Linked DNA regions of Homo sapiens: region 1 is linked to region 2. A link means that fine-mapping ties the variant in region 2 to the expression of a gene that starts in the linked region. Tissue or cell type: whole blood. Region 2 holds a variant in brackets; the other region holds the start of a gene. Each region is shown on its reference strand, or each on the opposite one.

What was found. PIP is the estimated chance that this variant, and not a neighbour inherited with it, causes the effect.
Region 1: it holds the start of TMT1B, and the variant in region 2 is fine-mapped to the expression of TMT1B in whole blood (TOPMed, PIP 0.98).

What each region holds. Positions count from the first base shown.
Region 1 is chr12:55,675,660-55,686,768 of GRCh38, reverse strand. It overlaps TMT1B (thiol methyltransferase 1B), which reads right to left and starts at 5,033. Exons shown (of 2, transcript NM_152637.3): 1 at 4,517-5,033; 2 at 2,158-2,956. The coding sequence starts at 5,014. The coding sequence ends at 2,720. It overlaps ITGA7 (integrin subunit alpha 7), which reads left to right. Exons shown (of 25, transcript NM_002206.3): 25 at 1,481-2,201. The coding sequence ends at 1,711. RefSeq lists enhancers at 1,173-1,672, 4,699-5,374.
Region 2 is chr6:107,729,065-107,740,173 of GRCh38, reverse strand. The region is part of intron 5 of SCML4 (Scm polycomb group protein like 4); the gene reads left to right. Among named protein-coding and RNA genes, the nearest start is that of SCML4, 90 kb to the left of the region's middle. The variant G/A (reference allele first, on the strand shown) is at 5,659.

The DNA of each region.
Region 1 (11,109 bases), not on the chromosome of region 2:
CATTCTTGTACACCCAGAGCTGTATACCGAATCATACTGGTATCCAGGGCTCAATGTAAAAGTATGCACATGCACACGTCAGTACACGGAATCACATACATCACCGGGGTCATATGCTGAGCCATCTGCCACATCGGGGGCTATGTTCAGAACCACACATGTCCTTGGGGCTCTGGAGAACTGCCCCTGCCTGTGCCTGCTCTTTGGGACCAATCAGAGACTGAGCCACCCTTTGGCAAGTGTGAATCATCAGTAGACCAGGCTCTGGAGTGGCATCCAAGCTGTTGGGAACCTTCCCAGTCTTAGGGGAGATTGATGCCTCTGTGAAACTGGTCCCAGGATGCTTGCTCCCTGCTCCCATGGAAGGAAGACAGAGCAGAGATAGGGGATCCTGTCCTTCCTCAATCTTTCCATCCTCTGCTTCCTCTGCCCTGCTTCTCCCTCGACATCCTAGTGTGGCTTCTTCCATCGGAGCAGCCAGAGCTCATCTTTTCCCACCAACTATCACCGGGCCTGTCTGGCTGTGCAGCCTTCAGCCATGGAAGTTGGGGGTCCAGGGACTGTGGGGTAACTGTTGTGTGTGTGCATGTGTCTAGTGTGTGTGGGTATGTATGTGTGTGAATATAAGGAGAATTCCCAGCATTCAGGGGATCAGGAATGTTCAGGGTGAAAAATGAGATTGCATGAGAGTGATGTGAGGTGAGAGGTAATTAGAAGGGTGCAGATATAAGGGTAAGTCTACACAGCCTGAGGCGTGCACAAAGGGTTGGTGGGCTCATGGGGTGTGAGCATGTGGGAGTGTGGGGAGGTCGCATGCATGCTTTTTTCTATGGGCATGAGTGTGCAAGGAGATGAATGTGTAAGGAGATGCCATGCAGTCTGAGCATGTAGGAGTCCTGGGCCTCTGAGTGTGAGTGTGCAGGGGCACATTCCCACCCTGGTGTGTAAGGGCCAGCATGGTCCTCATTTAGGGTGGGGCTAGACTACTGTATTGATGGACAAGAGGGTATTGCTGTAAGGGGCGTGCCGCCCAAGGTACAAGTACACGGGGTGCATGTTTATGAGGCTTGAGAGGTATCATTCCAGAGATGCAGGGGACTAGGAAGCCATTTTCTTCCTCAGGTCTTGTTTGTGTTCTGGGGGACACTATTGGGTCTCTTAAGAAGCTAGAGGGGGTACAAATCTTGAGTCCGGTCCTGATGCTCCACCCTCAAGGCCCTCTTTCAGGGGCCAAGGGAGATACCCTTGGTCCTGCCTCTTGGACGCCCTTCTGGTCTCTCTCTTGCTGTGAATGAGAACCTGGGGACACAGCACTGATGGGAGCACCGTGGGTGCTGCCCACCACACCAGATGCTATTCAGCCTATTTCCTTTCTGCCGCAGCAGGGATGGTGAGGGTGAGGAGCTGTGCCGCGCTAGGCATCTGCTCCAGGGACCGCAGCTCTTCAGGCTCCTCATGGTCTGGCCTGGTGTCCTTATAGATGGGATTCTTCAAACGGGCGAAGCACCCCGAGGCCACCGTGCCCCAGTACCATGCGGTGAAGATTCCTCGGGAAGACCGACAGCAGTTCAAGGAGGAGAAGACGGGCACCATCCTGAGGAACAACTGGGGCAGCCCCCGGCGGGAGGGCCCGGATGCACACCCCATCCTGGCTGCTGACGGGCATCCCGAGCTGGGCCCCGATGGGCATCCAGGGCCAGGCACCGCCTAGGTTCCCATGTCCCAGCCTGGCCTGTGGCTGCCCTCCATCCCTTCCCCAGAGATGGCTCCTTGGGATGAAGAGGGTAGAGTGGGCTGCTGGTGTCGCATCAAGATTTGGCAGGATCGGCTTCCTCAGGGGCACAGACCTCTCCCACCCACAAGAACTCCTCCCACCCAACTTCCCCTTAGAGTGCTGTGAGATGAGAGTGGGTAAATCAGGGACAGGGCCATGGGGTAGGGTGAGAAGGGCAGGGGTGTCCTGATGCAAAGGTGGGGAGAAGGGATCCTAATCCCTTCCTCTCCCATTCACCCTGTGTAACAGGACCCCAAGGACCTGCCTCCCCGGAAGTGCCTTAACCTAGAGGGTCGGGGAGGAGGTTGTGTCACTGACTCAGGCTGCTCCTTCTCTAGTTTCCCCTCTCATCTGACCTTAGTTTGCTGCCATCAGTCTAGTGGTTTCGTGGTTTCGTCTATTTATTAAAAAATATTTGAGAACAAAACCTCTGCCTCTTTGAGTCTTGCTCTGGCATCCCCAGCATCTCTGATTCTCCCTGGTGCCCCCAGCTCAGGAAGAAGGTGGTAGTGGGGAGAGAGGGTCAGGGGGGCTTGGCAGGGATGCAGGCACCATGACTTTTGTGACCAGTTCCTAGAGACGCATGGGTGTAGCCTCAGGAGGAAAGCGAGAGGAGCTTTACCATGGGAACGAAGGAAAGGGACAACATTGGGAGGCAAACGTTGGGAGACTAGTCCAGAAACTTGCAGTTGAGGATACAACAGGGTCCTAGTGTTTCCTCCCTGGGTCAGCGTAGAAGTAGAGCTTTTTCACTGTCGAAGGCGGGATTGAAGTTAGAGATTGCCCTGGCAGAGGTTGGGGAGAGAGGGACTAGTAGGTGGTACATGAATGTCTTCTCTCATTCTGCTAGGTCCCTCTCAGTGGAAGATAGATAGGCTGGTGGGTGGCTTGTTCTAATTGGAGGCTGGGGAAGGAGCAAATGAGTGCCTTGGAGCTTGGGAAAGATTATTTGACAGCCTTTCCCATGATGTGGGGCCCAACAGGTAGCCACTTCAAGGGAGGGGGCTGTCGTTCCATTTGGATTTCGGAGAACTGGGCGTTCTCAAGATCCTTCCAGGTCTCTCTGGTGAGGCAGCAGCCATCCCCAATGTGTTTCCAGGTGGGCTCGAAAACTTGCTGCCACATGAAGGCCCAGCTTCCATATGGTTCTGCCACATGCTCCCAGAAAAAGAGCACACCTCCCTGGGAGGGATGAGAGAGTTAGTGTCACTTGGCTCCATTCTGACCCTGCTCCCTATCGCGCTGATCAAGACAGTCAAACTTCTTGGTGAAATGGGAGCTGCTGGTCTGAGAGTTCATGGAGCAAACTGTCGTGCCCCTGACCTTTTCTGCATCCCCTGCTACCGCCTTCAAAGTGCATGTGAAGAACCTCATAACTGAAAGGAGTGGCTGGTGGGAGATCTTTAAAGCCTGACCAGAATAACCGAGGGCATGCAGAAGGGGAAACTGAGAAACAGGAGTGGAGGGCTCATTGTATTATTATTATTATTATTATTTTTTGAGACAGAGTCTCAGTCTGTTGCTCAGGCTGGAGTGCAATGGCGTGATCTCGGCGCACTGCAACCTCCACCTCTCAGGTTCAAGCGATTCTCCTGCCTCAGCCTCCCAAGTAGCTGGGATTACAGGCATGAGCCACCACGCCCGGCTACTTTTTGTATTTTTCAGTAGAGACAGGGTTTCACCATGTTGGCCAGTCTGGTTTCAAACTCCTGGCCTCAAGAGATCCACCTGCCTTGCCTCCCAAAGTGCTGGATTACAGGCGTGAGCCACCTCGCCCAGCTGGGCTTATTGTATTCTGAGATACACGCACAACCTCTCTCACAAAACCCAGATGCATGCACAAGCTGCTTCCTGGACATCGCTGTGAACATCCCAGGGAAACCTCAGGCCCAACTCTTGACTGAAGCTGGGGTTCCTCAAGCTCCTCGCCTCACTATACTCTCCCTAGGTGATCTCAAACCTAGTAAGTCCAAAACAGCTTTCTTCCATCTCAGCAAATGGCACTTTTCATCAGCTCTCCCCTCAGTTGCTCATGCTAGAAACCTGGAAACTATTCTGAACGTTCTCTCCACAGTCTGATGGATTCTACTCTACTTCCCCTACTATCTTTACCTAGAACACTCTTTTATTTTCCCCACCCCGTCCACACTCTGCTTAATCCCTCAGATCTCTCTCTCTCTCTCTCTTTTTATTTATTTATTTATTTTTTTTGATACAGGGTCTCACTCTGTGGCCCAGGCTGGAGTGCAGTGGTGCGATCATAGTTCACTGTAACTTTGAACTCGGGCTCAAGTGATCCTCCCACCTCAGCTTCCTGAGTAGCTAGGACTATAGGCATGTGCCACCACGCCTGGCTAGCTTTTGTATTTTTTTTTTTTTTTTTTTTTGTAGAGACGGCATCTCACTATGTTGCCTTGGCTGGTCTTGAACTCCTGGGCTCAAGTCATCCTTCTGCTTCAGCCTCCCAAGCACAGATCTCGATTTAAACCTCAGTTCCTTAGGTGTCCTCCCCACTCCCCTCCCTGTCCCATGGTGGTAGGTGATCCTCCTGTTGCTTCCACAGCACCCAATTGTGCCCCGTCATGGCACTGGTCATGTCTCCTATTCACCAGCAGGTAGAGGTGGATGGGGTGTCTAATGTGCTACTTACTACCTCAGACGCCCCATTCTGGGGGCCGAACCCTGGGGCGGCTGATGCTGCGTTTGCCTGCCCCACACCCATCCCCTTCCCACCCTGCTTACCGGTCTCAGTACTCTCCGGACCTCCTGCAGGACCTTCCTTGGGCTCTGCACAGAGCACAGCACCAGAGTGCAGACCACCACATCCATGGAGCCATCAGCCAGCTGTCTCATGTCCTCTCCAGGAGCCACCACAAACCGCTCATATTGGAGGTGCCTGTTCTCAGCCATGCTCTTTGTCAGGAACTTCTCAAAGTGGGGATTTGGGTCTAGGCAGGTGACCCTGCAGCCCGGTGGGTAGAACTGAAAGTTGGCTCCGGTTCCGCAGCCCAGCTCCAGTAGGGCCACTTTCCCGGAGGCTCCTGTAAGCCCCTTTATCTGGCTGAAGAGCTCCCGTTTCTTGCTCTCCATCTTGCGGTTGCTCTTGGGAGTCAGCACGGCCATCAGGTAGGGGAAGTAGCTTTTGCACAGGGGCTGCCAGCAGCCCAGCAGAGCCATGAGGTGCAGGGGCAGGGTAAGAAGCAGCACCAGCAGCTGCAGGAGTGGGACCAGGATGTCCATGGCAGACCAGCTCTGAGCTGTGCTTCCGCTGGGGCACTGGCTTTTTCCCTGCTCAGCCTCTGCAGGCGCTGGCGTCCCCTCCCGCTGTGATAGGACTTTGCTCCTTGTCTCCTACTTGACAATTTCCTATTTGCCAGAGTTGAGTGGGTGTATGGAATTCCTCCAGAGGGCGCAGGTCCCACAGCCCCACAAGCTCTTCAATGACTTTTATGTGGGCGGAGGGACAGGTGGTACCCATGTTCCTGAGTTCTGGGGCACTGTGCCCAGCTGAAGGGGGGCAGGGGCTGCTGAGTCATCTCAGAGGGAGTGGGAAGGGGTAAGGGGATATGTTTCAGATGACAGACTCATGGCGGGGGAGTGTCGGGGGCTGGCAGGGCGTTGGGGGTGGGTTGGTAGTGGTGAATGCTGGGGACAGAGTTGACTCATGGGACATATCCTGGCCTCATTTCGTCCTCAGGTCAGGCACTTCAGAGGGGCCATAGGAAGGGAAGGGTGCTCTTGGCAGAGGAAAAAGTAGGTGTACAGGACAGAGACAGCATGCCCTCTCCTGGAAAGGGTGAGAAGTTTAGTTCTGTGGGGAATGGGGTAAGTTGGACAAATAGGGGGAAGTGAGGTCAGAGAATAGCCACTTTTTAGAGATCCTTCCCTCCCTCCCTCCCTTCCTCCCTTCTTTCCTTCTTTCCTTTTTTTGAGACAGGGTCTCTGCTGCCCAGGCTGGGGTGCAGTGGCAGCAGTCTGGGCTCACTGCAACCTCAATGTCCCTAGGCTCAAGTGATCCTCTTACACCAGCCTCCTGATTTTCTGGGACTACAAGTGCATACCACCATGCCCAGCAATTTTTTTTTTTCTGTAATTTGTAGAGACAGGGTTTCACCCTGTTGCCCAGGTTGGTCTTGAACTCCTGGGCTCAGGTGATCCACCCACCTCGACTTCCCAAAGTGCTGGGATTACAGTTGGGAGCCACTGCGCCTGGCTGAGAAGAATTCTTTTTACAAAACATTATTAAACAACTTTTTTTGGAAGAGGCAGTACATTCACTTAGTACAAAATTAAAAAGATACTAAAGAGATTACAGGGAAAATTCTCTCTTCTACTCCTGTGACCCAACCACTCAGATCTCCTCTCTGGAGGCACTAAATGCCATATTGCCAATTTCTTGTGAATCCTTCCAGAGATGACCTGTGAACGAGCAGGGAACACACACACCACGTGTTTAGATCCATGTACATATATACATATACATATTCCCTTTTCTTTTACAAATAGTAGTATATTGTACACACTCTTGTATACCTTGCTTCCCCCCCTTCTTAACAATGTATTGGATTTAGTAGATAATAGCAAATGGGTTTCCAAAGTGATTGTACCCATTTACACGTCCACCAGCAATATTTGGTTTTATGTGTCTTTTATGTGTTCATATTATTATTGATGCATAGATTCCTATTTTATTCACTGATTTGTAACCTAATACCCTATTTATTTATTTACAGTTTCTTTGAGGTATAATATATATAAGAAGGTTTACATATTTACAGTATATAGATTATTTTTGACACAGTATATACCTGGGAAACCATTACCACAGTCGAGATAATGAACATGTCTATGTGTTAGGCTTTTGCATTGCTGTTAAGAAATACCTAAGGCTGGTTGATTTATAAAGAAAAAAAGTTTAATTGGTTCATAGTTCTGCAGACTGCACAGGAAGCATGGCACCAGTATCTGCTTGGCCTCTGGTGAGGGTCTCAGGGAGCTTACAATCATGGTGGAAGACGAAGGGGAGCAGTGTATCACATGGCAAGAGAGGGAGCAAGAGAGACCTTGCGTGAACTGCCAGAGCGAGAACTCACTCATCACCAAGGGGTTGGCACTGAGCCACTGATGAGGGGTTGGGACCTCAGGAGCCAAACACATCCCACCAGGCCCCACCTCTGACATTGAGGATTACATTTCAACATGAGATTTGGAGGGGACAAACATCCAAACTATATCAGTTTCCTTGTGTTTCTTTGTAATCCATTCGCCCCTCTTTCATCCCCATCTTCAGGTAACCGCTGATCTGCTCTCTGTCAGTATAGATTAATTTCTCTTCTCTTCTCTTCTCAGGCAGAGTCTCACTCTGTGGCCCAGGCTGGAGTGCAGTTGTTTGATCTTGGCTCATTGCAACCTCCACCTCCCAGGTTCAAGTGATTCTCCTGCCTCAGCCTCCTGAGTAGCTGGGATTACAAGCATGCACCACCATGCCCGGCTAATTTTTGTATTTTTAGTAGAGACGGTGTTTCACCATATTGACCAGGCTGGTCTCAAACTCCTGACCTCGGGTGATCCGCCTACCTTGGCCTCCCAAATAGTTTGCATTTTCTGGAATTTTGTGTAAATGGAATCCTATAATGTATGGGATTTCAGCATCTGGCTTATTTCATTCAGCATGTTTATTTGGAGAGTCATCCATGTTGTACATGCATCCGCAGTTCATTTCCATTTCTGAGTAGTATTCCATTGTATGGATATACCACATATATTTTTATCCATTCACTTGTTGATAAACGTTTGGGTTGTTTCCAATTTCTGACTGTTAGAAATAAAGCTACTATGAACTGTTTGTGTACATGGGTTTGTGTGGACGTATGCTTTTATTTCTCTTGGGTGAATACCTGGGTGTGTATTTTGATGTTCAAATTGCCCTAGATTTGGCTGGGGGAGCACCTGCAAGCTGGCTCCTGTCTCCTTTTGACACAACTCCATCACTCTTTGAGCATTTTCTTACTTTCTGCTACAAGAAGATGTTCCAGGCTCATCTTGTATTTCCCCTGCTCCAGCCCCGAACTTAGTTATTTCTCAAAGAAGCACTGGTCTTTTGTGAGGAGGATGGTATTTAAAAACCAAGATCTGAATGCTGGATGTGATTATCACTGGGGAGTAATTGCTCCTGGGCCTGCTCCATGGACACAGAAAGAGGCAAAGTAGTATTATCCTGTGCTTTTTATTTGCTCTTTTCTTTTTCTTTTCCTTTTTTTTTTTTTTTTTTCCTGAGACAGAGTCTCACTCTGTCGCCCAGGCTGAAGTGCAGTGGCACTATCTCGGCTTGCTGCAACCTCCGACTCCCGGATTCAAGCGATTCTCCCTCCTCAGCCTCCCGAGTAGCTGGGATTACAGGCGCATGCCACCACACTTGGCTAATTTTTGTATTTTTAGTAGAGACAGGGTTTTACCATGTTGGCCAGGCTGGTCTCGAACTCCTGACCTCAGGTGATCCACCAGCCTCGGCCTCCCAAAGTGCTGGGATTACAGGTATGAGCTGCCGTGCCCGGCTTACTTACTCTTTTCTGCGTGAGGTTGAATTTTTGTTTCTTATAATTAAGAGCCTCTGTATTTCCTTTTCTAGAAATTTTCATTTTATTTTTTATTTTTGAGATAGCCTTGCTCTGTCACTCAGGCTGGAGTGTAGTGTGCGATCACAGCTCACTGCAGCCTCAACCTCTCAGGCTCAAGCAATCCTCCCACCTTAGCCTCCTGAGTAGTGGTCACCACAGGTATATGCCAACATGCCCAGCTAATTTTTCTTTTTTTTGAGACGGAGTCTTGCTCTGTCACCCAGGCTGGAGTGCAGTGGCATGATCTCTGCTCACTGCAAGCTCTGCCTCCCGGGTTCATGCCATTCTCCTGTCTCAGCCTCCCGAGTAGCTGGAACTACAGGCGCCCGCCACCACGCCCGGCTAATTTTTTTTTGTATTTTTAGTAGAGATGGGTTTTCACCGAGTTAGTGAGGATGGTCTCGATCTCCTGACCTCGTGATCCACCCTCCTCGGCCTCTGAAAGTGCTGGGATTGCAGGCGTGAGCCACCATGCCTGGCCAGACACACATATATATTTTTTTAAATTTTCTTTTTTTAATTACACTTTAAGTTCTAGGGTACATGTGCACAACGTGCAGGTTTGTTACATATGTATACATGTACCATGTTGGTGTGCTGCACCCATTAGCTGGTCATTTACATTAGGTATATCTCCTAATGCTATCCTTCCCCCCACCCCACCCCACGACAGGCCCCAATGTGTGGTGTTCCCCACCCTGCAGATACACAGATTTTCAATTGTGAGGGGTATCAGTCCCCTAGGTCCTGAGTTGTTCAAGGGTCAACTGTACAGCCATGTGCTGCATAACACATTTAGCTCAATGACAGAGCACATATATGATGGAGGTACCATAAGATTATTATGTAGCTGAAAAATCCCTGTCCTGTAGTGATGTCTTGATGATCCTGACCTTGTGTAGACCTAGGCTAATGTGTGTCTTTGTGTCTTAGCTTTTAACAAAAAAGTTAAAAAAATTTAAAAAATAGAAAAAGCTTATAGAATAAGGATATAAAGAAATAAAATATTTTTGTACAGCTGTAGAATATTTATGTTTTAAGCTAAGTGTTATTACAAGAGTCAAAGTTAAAAAAATTAAAAAGTTTATAAAGTAAAAAAGTTGCAGTAAGCTAAGGCTAGTTTATTATTGAAGAAAAGAAAAAAAAAATGTAAATAAATTTAGTGTAGTCACTCACTGACTCACCCAGAGCAACTTCTTGTCCTGCAAAGTCCATTCATGATATGTGCCCTATATAGGTATGCCGTTTTTAAATCTTTTATACTGTATTTTTTACCACACCTTTTCCACGTTTAGATACATAAATACTTAACATGGTGTTACAATTGCCTATAGTATTGAGTACAGTAACATGCTGTACAGGCTTGCAGCCTAGGAGCAATAGGTTACGCCATATAGCCTAGCTGTATAGTAGGCTACACCATCCAAGCTTGTGTAAGGACACTCTATGATGATGTTCCCGTAATGGTAAAATCACCTAACGATGCATTTCTCGGAACTTATTCCTGTTGTTAAGCAACATATGACTTAACATGTGACTGTATATTCAGAGTTGTGCAACCAGCCACCACAATCAATTTTAGAACATTTTCGTTACCCCAAAAGAAACTTGTGCTTTTACCACTTACTCCCATTTCCCCCATCCCCATCCCAACCCCAGTACCATCAATTTCCTTTCCGTAGGCAATCACTACTCTACTTATGTCTGTATGGATTTACTTATTCTTGACATTTCATGTAATTGGAATCATACTACATGTGGCCTATGTGACTGGCTTTTCACACAGCATAATGCTTCCAAAGTTTACACATGTTGTAGCATGTATCAATACTTCATTCCTTTTACGTCCAAGTAGCATTGCATTGTACAGATATGCCACATTTTGTTTATTTATTCAACAGTTGATAGACATTTGGGTTGTTTCCACTTTTGGGGTACTATAAACAATGCTGCTATGAATTCTTGTCTTCATTTTATCTTTCTTTCTCCTAAATCATTAATCTCTGCCTTTCCATGGATCTTTCAAAATATGAATATGCTCTAATATATTTCAGGTTAATAATAAACTGACCCTCTTGACACCACATGTCACTTTAGCTAAAACTCCATTTTACAAATCTATGTCAAAGTCTTTTTTTTTTGGCAGGATCTTGCTCTGTTGCCTAGGCTGGAGTGCACCATTCTGACTCACTGCAGCCTCAAACTCCTGGGGTTGTGCTGCCCTTCCTGCTTCAGCCTCTTGAGTAGCTAGGACTATAGGTGCATACCACCATGCCTACTAACTTTTAAAAATTTTTGTAGAGACAGGGTATCTCTCAGGGTTGCCCAGGCTGATCTTGAACTCCTGGCCTCAAGCCATCCTCCTGTCTTGGTCTCCCAAAGTGCTGGGATTACAGGCGTGAGCTACTGTGCCAAGCCCAAGAAATTTTTATTAGTGATGGATTGGAGTGGGAGAAAGAGTGAATGGAAGGTGAGGAAACCAAGATAACACGAGCAGATGACTCAAGAATTATGACTTTGGGCGGGCGTGGTGGCTCGTGCCTGTAATCCAAGTACTTTGGGAGGCCGAGAGGAAATGACTGCTTGAGCCCAGGAGTTTGAGACCAGCTTGGGCAACATAGGCTGTTGTTTTTCTCTACAAAAAATAAAAAAATTAGCCAATTAGCCGGGTGTGGTGGCATGCGCCTGTAGCCCCAGCTACTTAGGAGGCAGAGGCAA
Region 2 (11,109 bases):
TTAACATCTTATTCCAGGAGGATGACAGCCTTCCTTCCTAAAAGCTGATGTCCCCATCTGAAAGCTGGTTTTCCTCCCAGTCAGCTGGGAGGTTTGGAAGTAATGACCCCAGTTGTTCTCTTGAGCCCTTTCCTAGCTCATAACTACTTTGAAAAAATAAATTGCTCTAAATTATCCAACCTTGTGGCACTGATTTCTCAGCAGAGCTGAGTGCTGTGAATTTTGCTTGTCAGGGAGCCTTGGGGAAAGTGGAGGAAGCAGCGATGGCATGGTAAGCTCTGAGCAGTACCCTCACCCCACATGTCTTTCCCACCAGTCTGTCATGAGCCCTACAATGACGCCATTAGGGAGTTTGCCTTTAGAGTAAGACATTGTCTCTTTAAGATCGCCTTGTCAAAGTTTCTTTAAATAACATGTCAAGTTACCAGTATGTTAGAGGATGAATTAGTTTATCATCCATTTTCTCACCATTGTGACAAGAAAGGCATATGCATTTGTATGAGGGAAGGGTGGAGGTTTTTTTTTGTTTGAGGCTCCATACATCCATAGGACCACATTGTTCCCGAACAGGATTGTAAGGTCATGGGCTTATCTGCATCAGGACAATGCCTGGTTCTGCTTGGCCCCAGGGTTGTTCTGTTCAAGTTGAAGAGTTCCAGGATTGGTGCCATGCACCTAAAGGGCTTGTCAACACTCACTGGAACATTTCCAGAAGACAGTTAATCACATGATAAGAAGATGCAAAGCCATGACAGCTAAGGAACTATGGAAAGAACTGGGATGTTTTTGGTAGAAAAAAAGAGAAGATTTGGGAAAGATGTGATTTTATGTTCCAGTATATGACAGCAGGTCAGGTGGCTTTGTTCTCTGTGGTCCTGTAGAACAGAACTGAGACTAAATAAGTAAAAGGTAGATTGAATTAAATCTAAGGTCTTGTCCCTCAAACTCTGGTCAGGGGCATTGTTATCACCCACCAAAGCCAAAAATCTCAGTGGCCCTGCCAAACTTTCAAACAACAGATCCCCAGGTGCTTTGAAGACACATTAGAGAAGCATAGATTTAAGGAACACTCTCCCAGGTAGAGAACTTAGCAGTTAAATAACCAGATGGAACTCTCAGAAGATAGTTCCCTTGGGAGTCAGGTGGAGTTGACATTGTAAAGAGCTTTGAAATGTCAAAGCCACTCAGAATTTGAAGGGGCTGCTTGGAAGGTAGGTGATAATGATCTCCCCATTGTTGGTGACAAATATGTGTGACTTGTTAGGGTCATTAGTGGGAATGTTGGCCACCTGGAGGAGTAGGAGCAAGATGTTCTCGCTGGTCCCTTACAGGCTGACAGCTCCGGGCTGGAGGTGGCAGAGAACAGCCCTGTACAGCGGGAGGGCAGGTTACCTTCAAAGCATTAGCAAGGGCCTCCCAGAGGTGAAGGTATGGGCACCAAGACAAAGTGGCTGTATTAGAAGCAAGACCTCTTCCCTTGAAGAAGAGGGAGGGCTTCTTCCACATCTCTTCCTCAGACTTTTGAAATATAAACTCTCGATCCTTTTTTTTTCAAGATGGACTCTCTCTCTGTTGCCCAGGCTGGAGTGCAGTGGTACGAACTCGGCTCACTGCGACCTCCACCTCCTGGATTCGAGCAATTCTCCAGCCTCAGCCTCCCAAGTAGCTGGGATTACAGGTGTGCACCACCACACCTGGCTAATTTTTGTATTTTTATAGAGACGGGATTTTGACATGTTGCCCAGGCTGGTCTTGAACTCCTGACCTCAGGTGATCTGCCCGCTTCGGCCTCCCAAAGTTATAAACTCCCTATTCAAATGATATTTTTCCTGTGCTTAGGGAAAATCAGCCTTCAGGCTTCCCTGCTGCCTGAATTCAGCCTGGAAGTTAGAGTTCTTGGCCTGAGACCAGGAACTTAGTTATTTCCCTCCAATTCTATTAGCTGACATCTGAAGGTGGTTTGTGTTTGGGGAAGTAACACAGCTCCCTGGGTGTTTTAGGAGAATGGAGGCAGAAAGATGGATTTGATAACACTGGTGGCTCTGTCAGAAGTCATGAGATGACCACGGGGAAAATTGTTGTTGCCTTTGAGTGTTAAAATTTAAAAAGACCCAAGTATAAATATGCTTTAGCCAGTGCTTCTCAAACTTTAATGTGCAGAAACCACCTGAGTATGTTGCTAAAATTCAGATTTTGGTTCAGTAAAGCTGGGGTGGGGCCTGAAAGCCTGCATTTCTTTTTTTAAAAAAAATTAATTAAGCTAAATTCAATTTTTTATTTGTACAAGTTTTTGGGGTACAAATGTAATTTTGTTACATGCATAGATTGCACAGCGCTGAAGGTAGGGCTTTTAGGACACCCATCACCCAAATAATGTACATTGTACCCATTATGTAATTCTCCTCTTCCCTCCCACCCGGCTCACCATTACAAGCCTGCATTGTCTATCATTCCACAAGACAGTCTGCCTTTTAACAGGTGCCCAAGTAATACTGGTGCTGCTGATATTGGTGCAGCTGATAGGGCGGGGGCCACACCCTGAGTGATAGAGTGTGGGTGGGCTGGCAGAGTCCTGCTCACACAGAGAAACTTATTCCAAGTTTTCAGTACAGGAAGTCTGTCTGTGCTAAGATGGTTCTTCTCTGCTATAAGTGTGGCCCCTGAAGATGATCCAGTGTTGAGTGGAGGTGTTTTGTGGGCTGGAAGGGAAGAGAAGGGCATGAAGGGCAGAGTGGTTGGATCGAGGTGGCACTTGTATAAATCCAGGGGAGAAAGACAAGGCTTGCATATCTGGGGAAGAGGGTGAAAGATAGGAAAGAATGATGACAAACAAACAAATTTCTCCCCATGGCCAGCAAGCACCTGAAGCATGGTCTCTGGTGCCCTGTAAACCTTCCCCAATCCGAAGAAGGTATCCCTCTGTTCTCCCCAGATCCTTATTTCCACGTCCACAATGGCATTTGATTCTGCTTTATATTGCAGGACTCTGCATCCAGATCTCTTCTTCCTGCTAGATAGACCTGGGGGTCCCCAGCAGAGCCTGAAACACAGCAAACACGCAGTAAATACCTACTGACTTGAATTCTATGCAACACGACAGAACAAATTGTCTGCTCACCAAGAGTAGGAGATCTTTGGAAACCACAAATGTGAGAGTTGAACTATTCTGCAAGATCTAATTTAGTTGCTGGTTTCCTGCCTTTTGAAGGTTTAGCATAATGGGGACAGATTGTTTACTTTTGCTGAGTAGCTTCTTTGATATACAGATGGCAGGGGGTGGAAGATGAGAACGGACATTTATTCTTGAGGCTTACTGTTTCCTTCCTTGGCTGGTGGTCTTTGAGCAGGCACCAGAACACCCTCCCAGTAATAGTCACTCACAGTGTTCCATTACGGTTGAACCTATACACTCAGCATTGAGAAATGAAACCTGCTTCCTATCCAACAACACATTTATCTAGTAGAATAACATTACAGAGAATATATGGAGAATGTCTATCTTTACAAAAGATCATTTATTTTTAAAAGGGAACAGAGTTCATCAAGAGGCATGAGTTTCATTACATGGACCCATCCATTTAGTCAGTTGGCAGATAGTGCTGAGCTCCCCTGTTGGTAATGCAGCGAGGCGCACAGGGCCCAGGTCACTTGTTTAGAGCCACACACACAGCAAGATAGCAGCAGGGAGGAAACCGAGAGCAGGTCTTCTCATCCCCGGCCCTTTGCTTTTCCTCTCCAAGTTTTTCCTTATTCCAAGTTTTTCTGCTGTCTGTAAGGCCCGTTATCCAGCACTGGCTGCGTGGGGTGTGCATCCCTGTTTCTCAGCTCAGAGGGCTGACTGCACACAATAGATGTCCACAAGGGGCTTGTGGTACACCTGTGTTGCTTCTAGCAAAGATGTGAAAGAACAGAACAAACCCCAGCCCTCATTTAGCAAAATCAAGGAGGAAACTACACTCTAGGAAGATCAATTCTCTTCTCCTCCTGGGTTTCCTGCCTTTCCCACACGGGATGTTTTCCCCGTGTCCTTGTGTTCTGGCTACATCGGGGCTGGATGACAACCACGGGGCAGGCACAGCCCATCATTCCAGCTGCCAGGGAACTTCCTCATTTCTACAAAACCCACACAAGTAGCCTACTCCACCAGACAGTGGCAGAGTTTGATCTAGTGTTTGAATTAATATGTGGAATGATGGGTAGAAAAAGAAAAGAAATAAAGGGGGAGTTCTTGATTAATGGGTATAGAGTTTCAGTTTTACAAGACGAGTTATGGAGATAGATGCTGATGATGGTTATGCAACATTTTGAATGTATTTAATATCACTGAGCTGTATGCTTAGAAATGGTAAAGATGATAATTTTTTTTTTTTTTTTTGAGACAAGGTCTTGCTCCATCATCTAGGCTGGAGTGCAGTGGCGTGATCTCGGCTCACAGCAACCTCCACCTCCAGGGTTCAAGTGATTCTCCTGCCTTAGCCTCCCAAGTAGCTGGGATTACAGGAGCCTGCCACCATGCCTGGCTAATTTTTGTATTTTTAATAGAGATGGAGTTTTGCCATGTTGGTCAGGGTGGTCTCGAACTCCTCAGCTCAAGTAATTCACCTGCCTCAGCCTCCCAAAGTGCTGGGATTACAGGAGTGAGCCACTGTGTCGGGCCATGACTTTATGTGATATGTGTTTTACCACAATAAAAAAAACTTGAAGAAAAAAAAACAGAACTGGAATCCCCCCGCCCTCAAAAACAGAAAGAAAGGAAAGGAATGAAGAGAGGTGCGTTCCTGCAGATGCCTTTGCACCTGCTTGTGTCCCAGTGCAGGCCACATGACTGGAACATTGTGGAGCTGTGTTTGTCACAGCCAAGGGCCACATGGACAAATGAGCTGTCTCATTCTCAAGCTGAGCATTGGAAAGGAGGTCATTTGGAAGGAGAATAAACTATTGACAAGCTCTGGTCTTAAGAATCCTTGCAGAAGGTTTTGATGAAAAGGTTGAAAAAGAGGCTGAGCTCGGTGGCTCACGCCTGTAATCCCAGCACTTTGGGAGGCCGAGGTGGGTGGACTGCTTGAGGCCAGGAGTTTGAAACCAGCCTGGCCAACATGGTGAAACCGTGTCTCTACTAAAAATACAAAACTTAGCCAGGTGTGGTGGTGGATGCCTGTAATCACAGTTACTCGGGAGGCTGAGGGAGGAGAATTTCTTGAACCCAGGAGGTGGAGGTTGCTGTGAGCTGAGATTGTGCCACTGCATTCCAGCCTAGGTGACAGAGCATGATTCCTTCTCAAAAACCACAACAATAACAACAACAACAACAAAAAGAAACTAAAAAGTGTCCATCAGTTTTGTAGAAAATACAAAAGCCTTCATATTTTTCCTGACACTTAGGGCCATAGAGGCCAAGCTAGAACCCTTACACCATGGAATAGGGAGTGTTCTCCAGGGTAGGAGTCCTCATCCTAATTCTCCCCATGTGCCTATGTAAATTCATTTAGGAAAAGCTTTATATTTTCAGTGATATCTTTCATTAAATTATGATATCTGTACATATTTTAAAATATTGAACTAAAAGGGAAAAATGTAATCTCTTTTTTAAAGAAGGTGCCTCCAGAGAAAAGCCTGCATTTCGTAGAATTTAAAATGGATTCTCTATTATGTCCAGCA[G/A]TTGATTGGATCCCTTTGCATTGTAAGGCTCAGGTTCTCTCTCATGTCCTGTAGATACCGAGGAAGTTATTTACTCCATAACTATTAACCAATGAATGAATGTTCCAATTAAGTTGTTTTAATCGCCCAAGGTATCTTCAATATGAACTAGAGTAATATTGAGTCACGTTGACCCCTTTGATAAAATTTTGGTAGAAAGTAACTGTATTCAAACAAACAAACAAAAGAAGTGAACACTCTTCTTGTCTAAATCACAATTTATTTTGTGGATTAAAGATGCCAGCACCTGAGACTTGAGGAGTAGAATGATGCTGGTGGTAAACCCCTTGCAGGCTTTCTACTGTTTGGGGGTGTGGAGGAGATAAAAAGCCTGAAAAAAAGAGGCCAAATGGACTCCTTCTTCCTAGAAGGCTGACCCCAGGAATCCTCTGAAAGACACCCCTACCTCTACCCTATGCCCACTCCTCAAATAACAAAATCTACTGGAAATCTCCTGTGTTCCATGAGGCGAACAGTCCCTCATGTGGCGCCCCCACTCCTCGATTCTCCGTGAGCCATTAGAGCTGGCCAGATGGCCGGGGGTCTCCCAGCCTCTCTATCAAATAGTTGTGTCTGTGTCCACTGCAGAAGATGTTCTGTTTCTGATGAGCCTGTCCAAAGAGGCTCCTGCCTCTGACAGAAGAGTAGGTCCGGGAGATGGGCCAGGCATCTAAGTAGATCCAAGGGGTTGGAAACCAAGTTCTCTGATTATACCTCAGAACAGTGGAAGCACAAGGACTGGTGGAAACAAAGGGACAGGGTATGTGAGATGCAGCCATTCGAGGCCTCCAGGACCTGCACAGGTTGTATTAGAGACCCCTTCTGGTTATTCCCCTGGACCACAACCCTGAGCCCCTGTGGCGGACCCTAAGGTACTGCTATCTGCAGGCTACTCACACCATTATCTGTTGTCCATGCTTGAGAACTAGGGTTAGAATGGCAAACCATGCCAAGAGGAGCTGAAGCAGCTTAGGAAACCAGTAGGCTTCTAAGATGAACTTCATGAACTCTCTCCTAATAGTGGTGCTTTCTGTGTTTCATTCATAAGCAACAAACCCTTTGCTGAAAAAAACTACAACAAACAAACATAAACTCCCTGGCAGAGAAGTGGGCAGATACTCTGTACCAGATCTATCCTAGCTACTGCTGAGTTAATAATGACAACTTCCAATCTGGACATGCAGAATCAAGAGGAATGAAACGGCTTCCTTTCTTCTGTCCACAATAGTTATCTTTTGCTGTGTCATAAATTACCCCCAACACTTAGGGGCTTAAAATAACATTTAGGGTCTCACAGCTTCTGTGGGTCAGGGGACCAGGTGCAGCCACAGGCCTTCTGGTTCTGAATCTCTCACAAGGCTGCATCTCAAACCTCAACTAGGGCAGGACCCACTTTTCCAGCTTTTTCACATGGTTGTCAGCAGGACTGAGTTTCCAATGAGCTGTTGGTTTGTTGCCAGATGGGTCCCTTTGCAGAGCATCTCACAGCACAGCAACTTGCTCCACCAGAGTGAGCAATGCTAGGAGTGCTGTGAACCTCTCTCAAAGTCGAGATGTCCATTTAGAAAGGAAACTTACAAGGCGTCCTCTATTCCAGGAACTTCAGCATTTTCCTGATTAAGGACCACTTTTAATTTCCCCAAGGTTCTATGAAAGACCAAAAAATTGTGGGGGCTGTGGAGGAAACAGCGTGACCACAGGATGTCCCACCCACTTCGCCTCCCCCAGCTCTCGGGAATTCTCATAAGCTTGGCGTGGAGGTTTGGCAAAGCTGCGAGATCATATGGAGGGTGGTATGGAACCTGCTCTCCTCCCGAGAGCACAGAAAGGCCATTCATTATCCCAAACAGATGACTTTGGTCAAAAATGCCTTTGGTCAAAATTTCCAAAGGAGGAAATCAACCCCTAGGCTTAGAACAAAGTCTTAGGCAAACCAGAAACATCTGAGAGGATGTAAGAAGTTCAGGTGTCAGGCATTAAAATTATGGTCGGTTGCTGTGCATCTCATTAGGGGAGAAAAAATAGAAATGTACTTAAATGGACCAGAGGGGAGTCATAAGGTTGATTCTCAGGGCTGAGTGATCTGAACTGCAGAGACAACCTTAGAGAGAAAATCCATACTGGCCAGAGACCAAGTTAATGGAAAATTTAATTGAAGCAAATGAAATGCTCAGCCTCATAGGTAGTATGGCCCTGTGCCCTTTGAACCAGAAAGGCTGGGCCAGGAGGCCACAGAGGGCCCTAAGGGAAAACTCCCTTATCTGCAAGAACAAGGGGCGGGACTGAGTTTGAGAAAAGAAAATCTGCAAACCTCCACAGGAGCCTCAGTGAAAGGCTGCATGCAGGGGAGGAAACCTTCAGGTTTTGGTCACCAGGAAGTCCGTTAGAGATTCACAGCAGAAGGCCCCTCTGCATCCCACAGCACCAAGCACGTGCTGGAAACCGGCGGTCCCCCAGAGGACAGTGGGAGAGGCTGCCGGGTGGCAGAGACACAACCACCAAGGTAGGCACCGAAGCACCTGTGTCTGGGCTCTGAGTAAAAGAGGTGCAGCTGGCACGAGCACCTGCTACTGCTTCCTGCGCCTTCTCCCTCCTGCCCCTCTCCTCGCAGGTCTCCTTTTCCTGTACTATCTAGGTGATGGCACCTGGCTAAGCAAAGAGGGGTAGCTGCTCCACAGCTCTACAAATCTGCGAACTGCACTCCTGCCTTTTCTAATCTGGGTTTCAGGGCTAGGAATCTCTGATGTTGCCATCTCTGTCAGCAAGCCGAACCAAACTGTTCACACACGGAGGCCACAGGACACTGACCATTGCCTGGGCAGGGTGTGGGGGTCGGCAGGGCTGGGCAGACCGGCAAAGGGGTCAGGCAATCAATCCTGAGCAAGGCCAGGGCTCCCAGTCTGGAGGAAGGTGGTCGTGCTGATTGTGGAAAGGGCTCACTCTGCAGCTGCTCCCTCAACTGGGAAGACTGATGCGGGAAGTGGGGGGTGAGAGAGAGAGAGAAAGACAAACAGGCAGAACTGTTTAGAGATGACAAATAGTGTCTAAGACTAGATGTTGTGGTTCTTATTGCCTTAATAGGTATTATGTGAGAATAATTTTGCATAGTGGAATTGTTGTGTTTCAGGACTTCATTTGGTTAGTGAATCCAGGTAAAATGCCAGTTTAGTTTTTAAAAATAAAATCAATAGTCCGAGCCCACTGGGCTGTAAGCAGTTAAGCCTTGTGTCCTAAGTGAGGAGAGCTGACACTTGGTCAGGAGCATCTATAGTTTTATACATAAGGTCCGTTTTCCCCTCCCTGCCGCTCTGTTTTGGGACTTTCTCTTTCTCTCTCTGGCTCGTGGCTTTCTCCTGCACCTCTTCCTCTTTCTGCTTCTCTCTTTGGAGGTTCTCTACATTTCAGGGGCTCACACCTGACCCTCCAGGACTGTAGCAGAAATGGGCTGCACCTGGGTGTCCTGGAAGCCATGGATGCAGGGGCATTACCTAACCCTATCTCCACCCCAGGCTTCAGCAAGGATCAGGGAGCAAGGGAGGAATCCACACACTCTGGACTCAGAACCCTGAAGCTTTGATCCCTAAACCGGAAGGCTTAGGCACAGTTCAGGTTCATATGCAAACAGGTATGCCTTGAGGCTTGAGTGGGTTTACATGCTTCTAGAGTGTTCTTTGGCCTCACTAATAGGCAGGCTTTATACACAGTGGCTGGAGGGAACCATAGTCCACAAGCAGGTTTAGCGATGGTGAAAAAGGACCATCAGTCTGTCCTGAAAGCTCCCAGGACGCCAAACCTTGAAAATGTGGCAGATTTCTTTGATGGGGCCACGTGTGTGTTTTCCTTTCTATTTAAGCATGCTCTCGTGACTGTGCAAAAGGCAGATCATTCTTTTTTTCTGGAGGAAAAGATTTAATGATTCTTAAATGGCAACATTAGTCTCTTGGCTGGATGCAGAGGGTTACAGAAGTGAGTAAAAAGCCACTCATTTACCTTGCTTTGTTAAGCTGGCATTCTCCACTGCAATTAAATGGCCTCACACAGGCTGGGTTGGAGCCTCTTGTTGATGAGCAGTGCCAGGGTGACAAGACAGCTTCTTTCAGATGGAAAACGATTTTGTATGGACACAGGAGGAAATTTCGACCATGAGTGCCTTCGCCTGTGAGCCCTACGGTCTGCCGGGACTCTGTGTGCAGGAGTTAGATCCTCCAACAGGTCGGCTGGCCCCATCTGGTGTTTGCTCACCAGTCAGCCACAAAAGCGCTTGAAAAGTGGGGGTTCCCTCTCCAGATACAGACTTGGTCCTTTCTTTTTACTGACTTTAAATATTGGATTTAGGTAAGAAACATATGTCACAGTTCAATTAAATTCTTAAGCTCCTAGTAGTTCTGCATACCTAGAATTCATCTGCCTCATGTTGGATGTTGAGGTGACCTAACATGTTGGATAGTGTAAAGGGTACATGTCCAGCAGTCATGTGTTTTAACTGAAGCAAGAAGAATTGAGGCTAGATGTAAGGAGGAACTTTTAGGCAATGAGATTCATAGCACAATGGCCTCACTCTAAAGGAGATTGTAAAATCTCTTTGGGGAAGCTTTCAAATAAAAGACTCAGTTATCTACCATAGTTTCTTTTCTAGACAACACCCTGCCTGAAGAGATAGGTTGGGGCTAGCTCAATGCATTCCAAATATTAATTTACCACCTTCACAATTTCTACTGTGTCTGAGTAACACTTATAGAACTGTCTACTCAAGATATTCCTTTACATTAACTCATGTCTTTTAATCTTAGCCATTAGTCAGCTTAAGCAATCATACTGTATCAGTGAAATCATTTTGTTTGATGTGCTAATTATATGTCGTGGATGTACATTGAAATACATGACAATAAAAAAACATTTACTGGTTGTCGTAGGCTGAATCGTGTATGTTCAAATTCTCGGGTATCTGGAACCCTTTTTGGAAATGGGATCTTATTTGGAAATAGGATCTTTGCAGATGTAATCAAGTGAAAGGGAAGTCATACTGAATTAGGGCTCTAATCCCATGACTGGTGTCCTTAGAAGAAGAAGGAAATTTGGACACAGATCGTGACACACAGAGAAAACACCACAGTGGAGGCAGAGATTGGAGCGCTGTCTCCAGCCAAGGAACTCCAAAGATTGTTGGCCACCAGGGGATGCTAGAAAGAGGCCAGGAGGGATTCTCCCCTAGAGTCCTGAGAGGGAGCCTGGCCCTGTGGACACCTTGATTTCAGACTGGTAGGCTCCAGAACTATGGCAGAATAAATTTCTGTCGTTTTAAACCACCCGGTTTGTTAGTTTCTGCAATCCTAGGAAATGAATATACCCATGTGGTTCCCTGTCCCGCCAGTGGAAAGCATTTAACATTTGGGGAAATGCTGGGCTGGGTGC